Linked DNA regions of Homo sapiens: region 2 is linked to region 1. Evidence: fine-mapped expression QTL. A gene starts in region 1. The other region holds a variant in brackets. All regions are shown on one strand. Distances are from middle to middle.

Region 1 (4,395 bases):
ATGGATGGAGCTGGAGGCTATTATTCTTAGCAAACTAATTCATGTACAGAAAATGAAATACAGTATGTTCTCACTTATAAGTGGGAGCTGGATCGTGAGAACTATGAGCACAAAGAAGGAAACAACAGACACTGGGGTCTACCTGAGGGTTGGGGGGGTGTGAGTAGACAGAGAACCAATAACTACTGGGTACTGGGCTTAATATCTGGGTGATGAAATAATCTGTACAACAAACCCCCATGACATGAGTTTACCTCTGTAACAAAACTTCACATGTACTCTCGAACCTAAAATAAAGTTTTTTTTTTAAATGATCATACGCAATAAAGAATTTTGACAGGAAAATAACCTTAAAAAATAAAAATATATAAAATATAACAAAATTATATAGGGAATGACACAGAGATAACTCAGAGAGAAACTATTAGCTTTGATAACTTGAAAAACAAAAACACATTGATAAAATTTTTATGCAAAAAAATGGACTTAATGAAATGTTAGCAGAGCAACAATAGAAGGGGGTTACTGCTAGTATTTTTAACAGAAAAAGTGAAAGTGGTGGTGACTTTAAGCAGACCAGCATTTACCTGTTGGCAGATGACTTAGGTGTTGCTTTTTGTTCTGTTGTGAACGAGCCACATGACTGGAGAAGTCAACTTTCTTCTTCTGGGAGAAAGGTTGCGTGGTCAGCCTGAAAAAATTACTAAATAAAAATTACCTGGACACTTGCTGAAAATACAGATGCTCTGGCTCGGGCCCAGAGATTCAGGTTCAGCAGATTCAGGGTGGTGCCTGGGAATCTGCATTTTATCGTCTTCAAGGCTGAATCTGATGAGAAGACAAGTTTGGAAAAAACAGTAAAAGATTGTTGCAGATATTGTGAAATGTTTTGCTAGCTAGCAGGGAATGTCAATATAGATAGCTTTAAGCAGAAAAAAATGTAAAACATTGTGTTTTTTAGTTTTTTTCAAGTAATATAACATAAGGTTATAGGGGGAAAATACCAAAATGAACAATAATTTTCCTGACTAAATAATGAGCCAAAACTCTTTCCCCTAGCAACCACTATTAAGTTGCTTGTGATTCCTTCCAGAACCACAAGAATATGTCTACATAATATTCTAATATACTACAGTGTATAAAGAATATGTATACATAAATATACGTAAATATACCTGGTCTTTATGTACCTATTTGTAATAAAAGGAAACATACTAGGCTATTCCATACCTTTTGTCACTTAAAGAATTTTCTAGGCAATTGTTATATGCCAGCACACACAGATCTACTTCCTTCCTTTACACAGCTGCATAGCTGGTTTTCTACTGTGTGTGAACTACAATAATCACTGTTGATGGGCACTTCAGTGGCTTTCAGTTTTCTGCTACTACCAAAATACACTGCAAAGAGCATCCTTTCTCAGATGCTTTGGTGAACTTTTGCAAGAATGTCCATGGGGTTACTTCTTAGCAGCTGGGTTTACAAAGGATATGTACATTTACAAATTTGATGAATATTACCAAATTCCCTGCAGAGAAGTTGCACTTATCTGTAATCTCACTATTGGCATATGAGAGTACTCATTCTCCATGCCCTCACCAGCACTGAGTTTCATCAGATTTTTTTTTCGAGACAGAGTCTCGCTCTGTCACCCAGGCTGGAGTGCAGTGGCCCGATCTTGGCTCACTGCAAGCTCCGCCTCCCAGGTTCACGCCATTCTTCTGCCTCAGCCTCCGGAGTAGCTGGGACTACAGGCACCCGCCTCCAGGCCCAGCTAATTTTTTGTATTTTTAGTAGAGACGGGGTTTTGCCATGTTAGCCAGGATGGTCTCGATCTCCTGACCTCGTGATCTGCCCGCCTTGGCCTCCCAAAGTGCTGGGATTACAGGCATGAGCCACTGTGCCCGGCCTCAAATTTTAGTATTTTATTCTGTAGTCAGGCAAAAACTCATGTTTTCTTTTTAAATAAATACGTCTCAGTTTTGACACTGCTATTGATTTAAAGGGCTTGAGAGATCTGTTCTTTTGCCCCTTCTACTACAGAGCTATGATCTACTTCTTGCTGTTCCCCATCTCTGCTGGTTCCTTTCTGAATCCAAGCACCAGAAAGAGTAAGAATTCCTTTCCCCCTTTCTCTAACCACATTTTTCTTGCTTTCTCACAGACAGATCCAGGTTATCATTTCCTCCTGCTGCTTTCACATGGTTCCCTGTCCTGTTGGTTGCAGGTCCAATGTCTGACACTATGAAAGGGCATGGAGGACTCTTGAGTTGATGACACTAAGCCTCTGCTCTGGGGCTGCCCCCAGTTCCTTGCAGAGCTCTTTCTTTTGATTGGGCCAGGAGATAAAGAGACATCAGCGTAAAAGCCCTGCTGAGCAGCAATCCCATTGCCTTCAGTGGCACCTAATCCACTTGAGCTCTTCCTGGCTCTCTCACGGGTCACTGGCTTTGAGGACGCAGGCTGCTGGGGTGGCAGTGCCTGCTAACAGGCCAGAGACTGCGCAGGACCCAGGGAATGAGAGTGGTGGCAGGAAAGGGAAGGGGCCTTGTTGACTCACTCGCTGGGCAGCAAGTGCTTAGTGACAAGCAGTAAACAAAGACAGCGGCAACAGTGCTGGTGGCAGGGAGCTCCGCGGACAGACTTGCAAGAGACCCCTGCTCCTTGTTGGAAAGTTGTCCCATGATGAAGGCCTAGACCTGGTCACGGAGACTTTTGGATGCAGCCTTTAACGAAGGACGCAGGTATTCCTTGGCATCATTCAGTTTTCTCCTATAAATCTGGTCAGGGAAAGGGCAAACTTCTTACTGGGTCTAGGTATCCGGAATAAGAAGAACACAGCTGGGCAAGGACCTGTGTCAGTGCCCTTTGTGGTATTATTTGGAGTATTATTTGTTCCAGGCCATTGGCTAAGCCTGATAGACATTGTATTTGTTTTTTAGCAATAAAGAATGGGCTCAGAAGAGAAAACATGGACTTTAGAATCAGACCACCCCTTGTTTGAATCACTGCTTTGCTATTCAGCATCTGTGCAAATTCAAATGACTCTTTTAACTTTCCTAAGACTCGTTTTTCTTACCTGTAAAATGGGGATAATAATGCCCCATGCGTTACGATGTTGCTGAGGATTCATGGGGTGACACGCGTAAGGCACTTAGAACATACTTGGAGCATTTGAGTAGCCCAGTAAATCATGGCTGTCACTATCTTTCAGAAGCAAGTGTTTTGGTTATTGCTTAAAGAGTATCAGTGGTTTAAAGTAAGAAGACTCAGGGTATGCCTAGCTGACTTCCAGAAAACAATGGAAAAGAAATGATTCACCTGGCTTTATTTGTATGCTTAAAGGAAAGAAAAAACTCAGTTGAGGTTTTCAACAGTGTAAACAACTTTTTTTTTTTTTTAAAGCAACAATTGAGTTCAGAGATGAGTCGTGTCTATTTCTCCTGGCTAAATCCTGTGATTTGCTATAGGCTGTAGCTGAAACCAATTAAGTAGTTCATTAATTCAACGAGAACTTACTTGGTATCTCCTGGGGCCACATGCCAAATGCTGGGGATGTCTCCCCCAGCCCAGAGGATCTTCCAGGTTGTAGGACAGTGGGGGTCGGGGGGCAGAATGCTGGACCTGCATGAAAACTGGCGGTGATAGCAAGTGCCGAAATGGAGGTGGCACGGGCTCCTGGGAGAGGTGTTGCTTGAGCATGGCTTTAATGCTAAGCGAACACTAGCAGGAGTTGGGAGCAGGGGGATTGGAAAAGGCATCCCAAGCAGAGAAAAGCACATGCAAAGGCCCAGTGGCATGAATAAGTAAAGCATGCTCTGGGAACAGCAGGCAGTTTGGCCTAACTTTAGTAAAGTGGGAACAGGGGAATCTGATAAGAAAGGAGGCTGCAGAGGTGAACAGGGGAGAGCAAGGAAGGCCTTCTATGGCCCAGAGTTCACTCAGAAGGTCCCAGATAGGCACTGGTAGTTTTAATGAAGGATGTGTCGTGTCTGCATTTAATATTAAGAAGATTAATCTAGTAGCAATATGGGTGTGGGATTGGAGAGGATGAAACCTGGAATGATGACAGATGGCCTAACCTAAGAAAACAACAGTGGAATGTAGAGAAGGGGAGGTCTCCAAGCTGGTGCTGCCAGCACTGTGAGCAAAAACAAATACATATGCATCTAATAAGTTCATTATAAATTTTACTGATATGAAGGATGTATATTGCACAATTTACAAGTAATAAAATATAAAATACTCTTTATTACAAATTCTATATAGCCATTTGATTCTCACAGCATGCATTTGTTGATTTTTGCTGAACTCTTATACCCTTGGTCAGCCTGTTTGCAATTGACCACTGAATGTAGTTCCAATATGAATGTTGGTTGATATTTTTGTTTACAT
Region 2 (4,395 bases), 100 kb after region 1:
CCATTACCTTCAGACCCTGGAATGGGTCTGGATTTCAGGAATGTCATTGTTGGATTTAACTGTTGATGGGAAATAGAATGACATCTCCCACCAAAGTAAGGACACTCTATGGCTGATGAAAATTTTCAGAGGAAATTCAAGAGATATGTGAATGGAGGGCATTCTTTGCTTTCCCCTGTGATAATGCTATGTACCTAGAGCAAGAATATGTGTTTTCTTGGACCCTAAGCCTGCAATGAATTTGTCATCAGTAGATGATTTTAAGGGACCAAGTAAGAAACCAAGCAATAAGGCTCATGAATCCACATGGAGTGAACAGGCTGATACCAAATATGGTCCATTTATTCTTGGCTTGGGGTAACAGCCTTATCAGACACCAAACATAGCTATTTTTCATCTGAAAAACTGACTAAATTTTGGGTTATTCACAAATATATATTTGCTGAGAAGAGGTTGATGATTTCCTTTGGCTGGCAAAAACTTGGATTTTCTTTGCAGATATTTAATTTCAAAAATAATTCTTGAAATGTCTCACTCAAATCCAAATGGCCATTAAACACATGAAAAACACTCAAACCCGTGAAAAGCCACAGGAATACAAATTAAATTAAAATAAAATTTTAAACTTTATGTCTACCAGCTTGGCCAAATATAGCTGGTGGAATGTAGAAAAATGGTACTGTCATACAAAGCTGGTAGAAATGTGAATAAGTATATCCATATTCACATAGGGATGCAATCTGGCAACATGTATTATAATGAAAAATGCACATATCCTTTGGCCCATCAAAGCACACAAGACGTGCCAGGCACAAGCCTTCAGGCCCACAGCCATATCCACCTACGCTGGTCACTACCTATATAGAGATAGTGGTGCATCCCACGTGAGCAGTTGCTGAGCACCCGCCTTGTACCAGTGCTTGGGCTGGGGACATGCCCAGATCTCTCACATAGTTGCTATTGTTAAGCTTATGAACACCTAATCTTATTGCTCAGTGGAGAATACAATCTAAACGAACAGGTGAATACAGAAGACAGTGCCAGTCGGAGGTAAGGTCATGGGATAGAGTGGTGGGCAGGTGGGGATTCCCTTAGCTGGGGAGGTTGGGGAGGCTTCCTGGAGGAGGAAAGATGGGTGGTGAGTTTTTTGTTGTGTTTTTCAGGGTGGCATTAACACCAGTGTGCCATATGGTGGTATCTATGTGAAATCCATTGTTCCTGGAGGACCAGCTGCCAAGGAAGGGCAGATCCTACAGGGTGAGAGATGGGGATGGGTCCTCATTGGGAACTCTGTGCTCCATGGTGTAAAGAGCCCTGCACTGGGAGGGGCAGCCTCTAGGCCTTGCCCTGCTCCCATTCTGAAAACTCATGCAAATGATTGCCTCCCCAGGTCATACTTTTCTCACCTGGAAAGGAGGTGATAGAACCTGCCCTGCCCATTTGATAGGTTGGGGGGTCTGCAGTGGCACACTGGGAAGCATAGGTGATAGAAAAATAGTAGAAGACTTAAAAGACTTGTGTTGCTCTTTGGCCTCCATGGGAAAACATACTGCTTCCCTTGGAGGACAAGTGGGCCTCGGTAAACTCACTCGCACATCCGGGGAGGACACCTGAGCCTTCTGTTTGCCCTTGCTCAGCTCCCACTTCTCTGATGGAAGGGGGTGATTTTTACTGGTCTCCAAAACTGCCAGAATTGAGCCAAAAGGGGAACCTAGGATCTTACTTATCTCCATTTCCCCTAGAATTCTGGTGTCCCCAGCGTCAACCATGCCTCCCTGACCTTTTTTTGAAATAAAAAAAATACATGCTGGAGATATAAATATCTAAGTGACTTGAAAATACTTCCAAAAATGGTTTCACAGGAAAACAGGAGGAAGGATAAGGTTGAACAGAGCTGGCTCAACCATTCTGTGAGCCAATAATAGAAAGG[C/A]TTTTATATCCCTGATCTGTGATGTGCCTGAGAAGAAGGGAGTGAGACTGCTCAGAGAGGCAGGATTCCTGCTGACTCCAGGGGGACACCTGGCACCTCAGCTTCCTTTCCCACTTCTCCAGGCTGCATGGAGGGGTGCCGGGCAGGGGCCTCCTGGAAGGGAACCTCCTGCAGCCTCAAGCACCAGGTCATGACATGACATCTATCCCTTTCCCAGGTGACCGACTCCTGCAGGTGGATGGAGTGATTCTGTGCGGCCTCACCCACAAGCAGGCTGTGCAGTGCCTGACGGGTCCTGGGCAGGTGAGTGGACTGTTGCTGACCAGCTTCCCCTCCTTCCGGAACTTTCCTGAACAACATCAGAAGCTGAAATCGCCTCTGGGTGGGAGGGAGGCAGGCAAGAAACAAGACTTTTTCTTTGTTAGTTTTTTTTTTCTCTTCCATTTCTTCTTACCCTCACTTTTCTATGGGGATGTGAAACCCAGGAGATAGCAGATAGATGTTTCTGAGTAAAAAAAATCTCACCCCCCATAGATAGCCTTAGAAACTTACTGGTGGCTTGCCTGAATTCTGGAATCAGACAGCGGAATGGAGAAGATGGAGTGAAGAGACTGCTCTAGCCTGGCTCTGGCTGCCCCAGCCCCGCTGGCCCTGTGTCCATGGGCCTTCTTACCTCCCTACGTTTGCATAGGATGACCCCACTCCGTTCCCTGTTCATGCCATTCCCCCTCACCCTGTGTTGTACCCACCAGGGCGTGGGTCAGAGTGTCCTGGGATTCTTTTCCTCACAATGAGGTAGGAATTCAGGGTGCCAAGAGCAGAGCCATTCATCCTTTATGTCCCCTTTATTCCCTGCCCCGCAGTGACTCGATGTTATCCCACTGTGCCGAGTCCTCTGCCTGAGGTTAGGAGCCTCTAACTGCCTCTGTGTCCTGAGCCACAGAGCTGGCATCACCCTCTTTTGGCAACTAAAAAGTCAACAGAGACAGGAGGGATTCCTGAAGGCCCTTCCAGCAAGCTTGGGGCAATGTTCTGGCCACTTTTCGCTTTCTTTCCCAAAGCGGTTTTCTGGTGTCTGGTGAAATTTGCTTATATTAGTGACTTTGGTTGACCTATCTTGAGAACAGAGCCATAATTTATTGGCACCTTCTGATATTTAGACCTTTGCTAATGAGCATGGGTAGAGAGGGTACTTGGCTGGCCTCCTGGCAGCTTAAGCAGGTAGGAATTGTCCCTCTGGGATCCTGGGCCAGGTGCTGAGTGACAGGTGCAACAGGAAGATGAAGGCAGGGCCACATGCCCTGAATGGGAGCTTGGCATTTCTGAGAAGCTTCCAGGTGATGTCTATCTGCTGGTTCTTGAATCACACTTAGGGCGACAAGGGTATATGGTGTTGTGGGGAGAAATGTGGGAAATCACATTGGAAAGAAAGGGGAGGGCAGGTGGTACAGACCTGGGGTGCCATGGGTTTGGGTCTTAGGTGATGGGAAGCATTGGAGACTTTAAATCAAGAATGTTGCATGTTCAGTTTTTGTCTTAGACCAATTCACTGGCAGCCATGATGGGGTGGACCAAGAAGGGTGCAGACAGGGTCCAGTGAGCCAAGGTAACCAGAGCTTGCCACGGCCCAGCGGGTCACTGGCAGTGAGAGAGGAGGTGGAGGGGAGGGGGCACTGAGGAGCTGTTCTTGATGGGGAATGTTCACATCTTAGAAACCAGATGGGGGAGAGCTGGACCACTCCAAATGTGGCCCTTGGCAGGTTAATGGTGGGGTGAGCCAATGCGAGGGGAGGAGTGTTTTAGGAAGAACGAGGAGGGGAAGTGAGGGTGAGTGAGGGGAGGAAGATGAGTGTGGCACTGCATGTGTGAAGTGGAGGTACATGTGTTGCTTTCAGGTGCACTTGTCTAATAAGCACTGAGAAATCTGGGTCTAGATCCCAATATATAGGCTAGTTGAGAGATTCAAATGAGTCTGCTTATAGGAAGGATTCGAAAATTAAGAAGCATTTGCAGAGTCAAGGGAGTGCCTCCTGGTTGCCATATGAAGTGTAAACTGAGTTTGTTCACCTTTCCTTCTAGGTTGCAAGACTGGTCTTAGAGAGAAGAGTCCCCAGGAGTACACAGCAGTGTCCTTCTGCTAATGACAGCATGGGAGATGAACGCACGGCTGTTTCCTTGGTAACAGCCTTGCCTGGCAGGCCTTCGAGCTGTGTCTCAGTGACAGATGGTGAGAGGGGAGAGAATTGAGTGTTACTATTGTCATGTTATTGTGTGCCGCTTTTGAATTGTCAAGTCAAAAGGGAAAGGCAGGAAGGCTTCCTCTGGGTCCTGAAAAGAAAGCGAGCCATAGTGATCATGCTGAGATCTGCTTTTTCATGCCATGGAAGCCCATCTCATGGAATAGGTTTCTGGAAACAAATGCATTTTCCCCAAATTATTTCTAGGCATCTTTCTGCCCCCAGCCT

Alleles and levels. Positions count from the first base shown, and alleles are read on the strand shown. Sizes are in standard deviations (SD) of each study's normalised expression.
In carriers of allele A in region 2, the expression in cerebellar hemisphere of the gene that starts at base 2,591 in region 1 tends to be lower than with C alone (small effect, 0.31 SD a copy in GTEx).

The links. PIP is the estimated chance that this variant, and not a neighbour inherited with it, causes the effect. A credible set is the group of variants that fine-mapping cannot tell apart.
Region 2: its variant is the best candidate, but not a certain one, in a credible set for the expression of FRMPD2 in cerebellar hemisphere (GTEx, PIP 0.89).

Annotation. Positions count from the first base shown.
Region 1 is chr10:48,272,892-48,277,286 of GRCh38, reverse strand. FRMPD2 (FERM and PDZ domain containing 2) reads left to right here and starts at 2,591. Exons shown (of 29, transcript NM_001018071.4): 1 at 2,591-2,744. The coding sequence starts at 2,720.
Region 2 is chr10:48,172,708-48,177,102 of GRCh38, reverse strand. FRMPD2 (FERM and PDZ domain containing 2) reads left to right here. Exons shown (of 29, transcript NM_001018071.4): 23 at 1,164-1,257; 24 at 2,148-2,233; 25 at 4,010-4,157. Among named protein-coding and RNA genes, the nearest start is that of FRMPD2, 100 kb to the left of the region's middle. The variant C/A (reference allele first, on the strand shown) is at 1,931.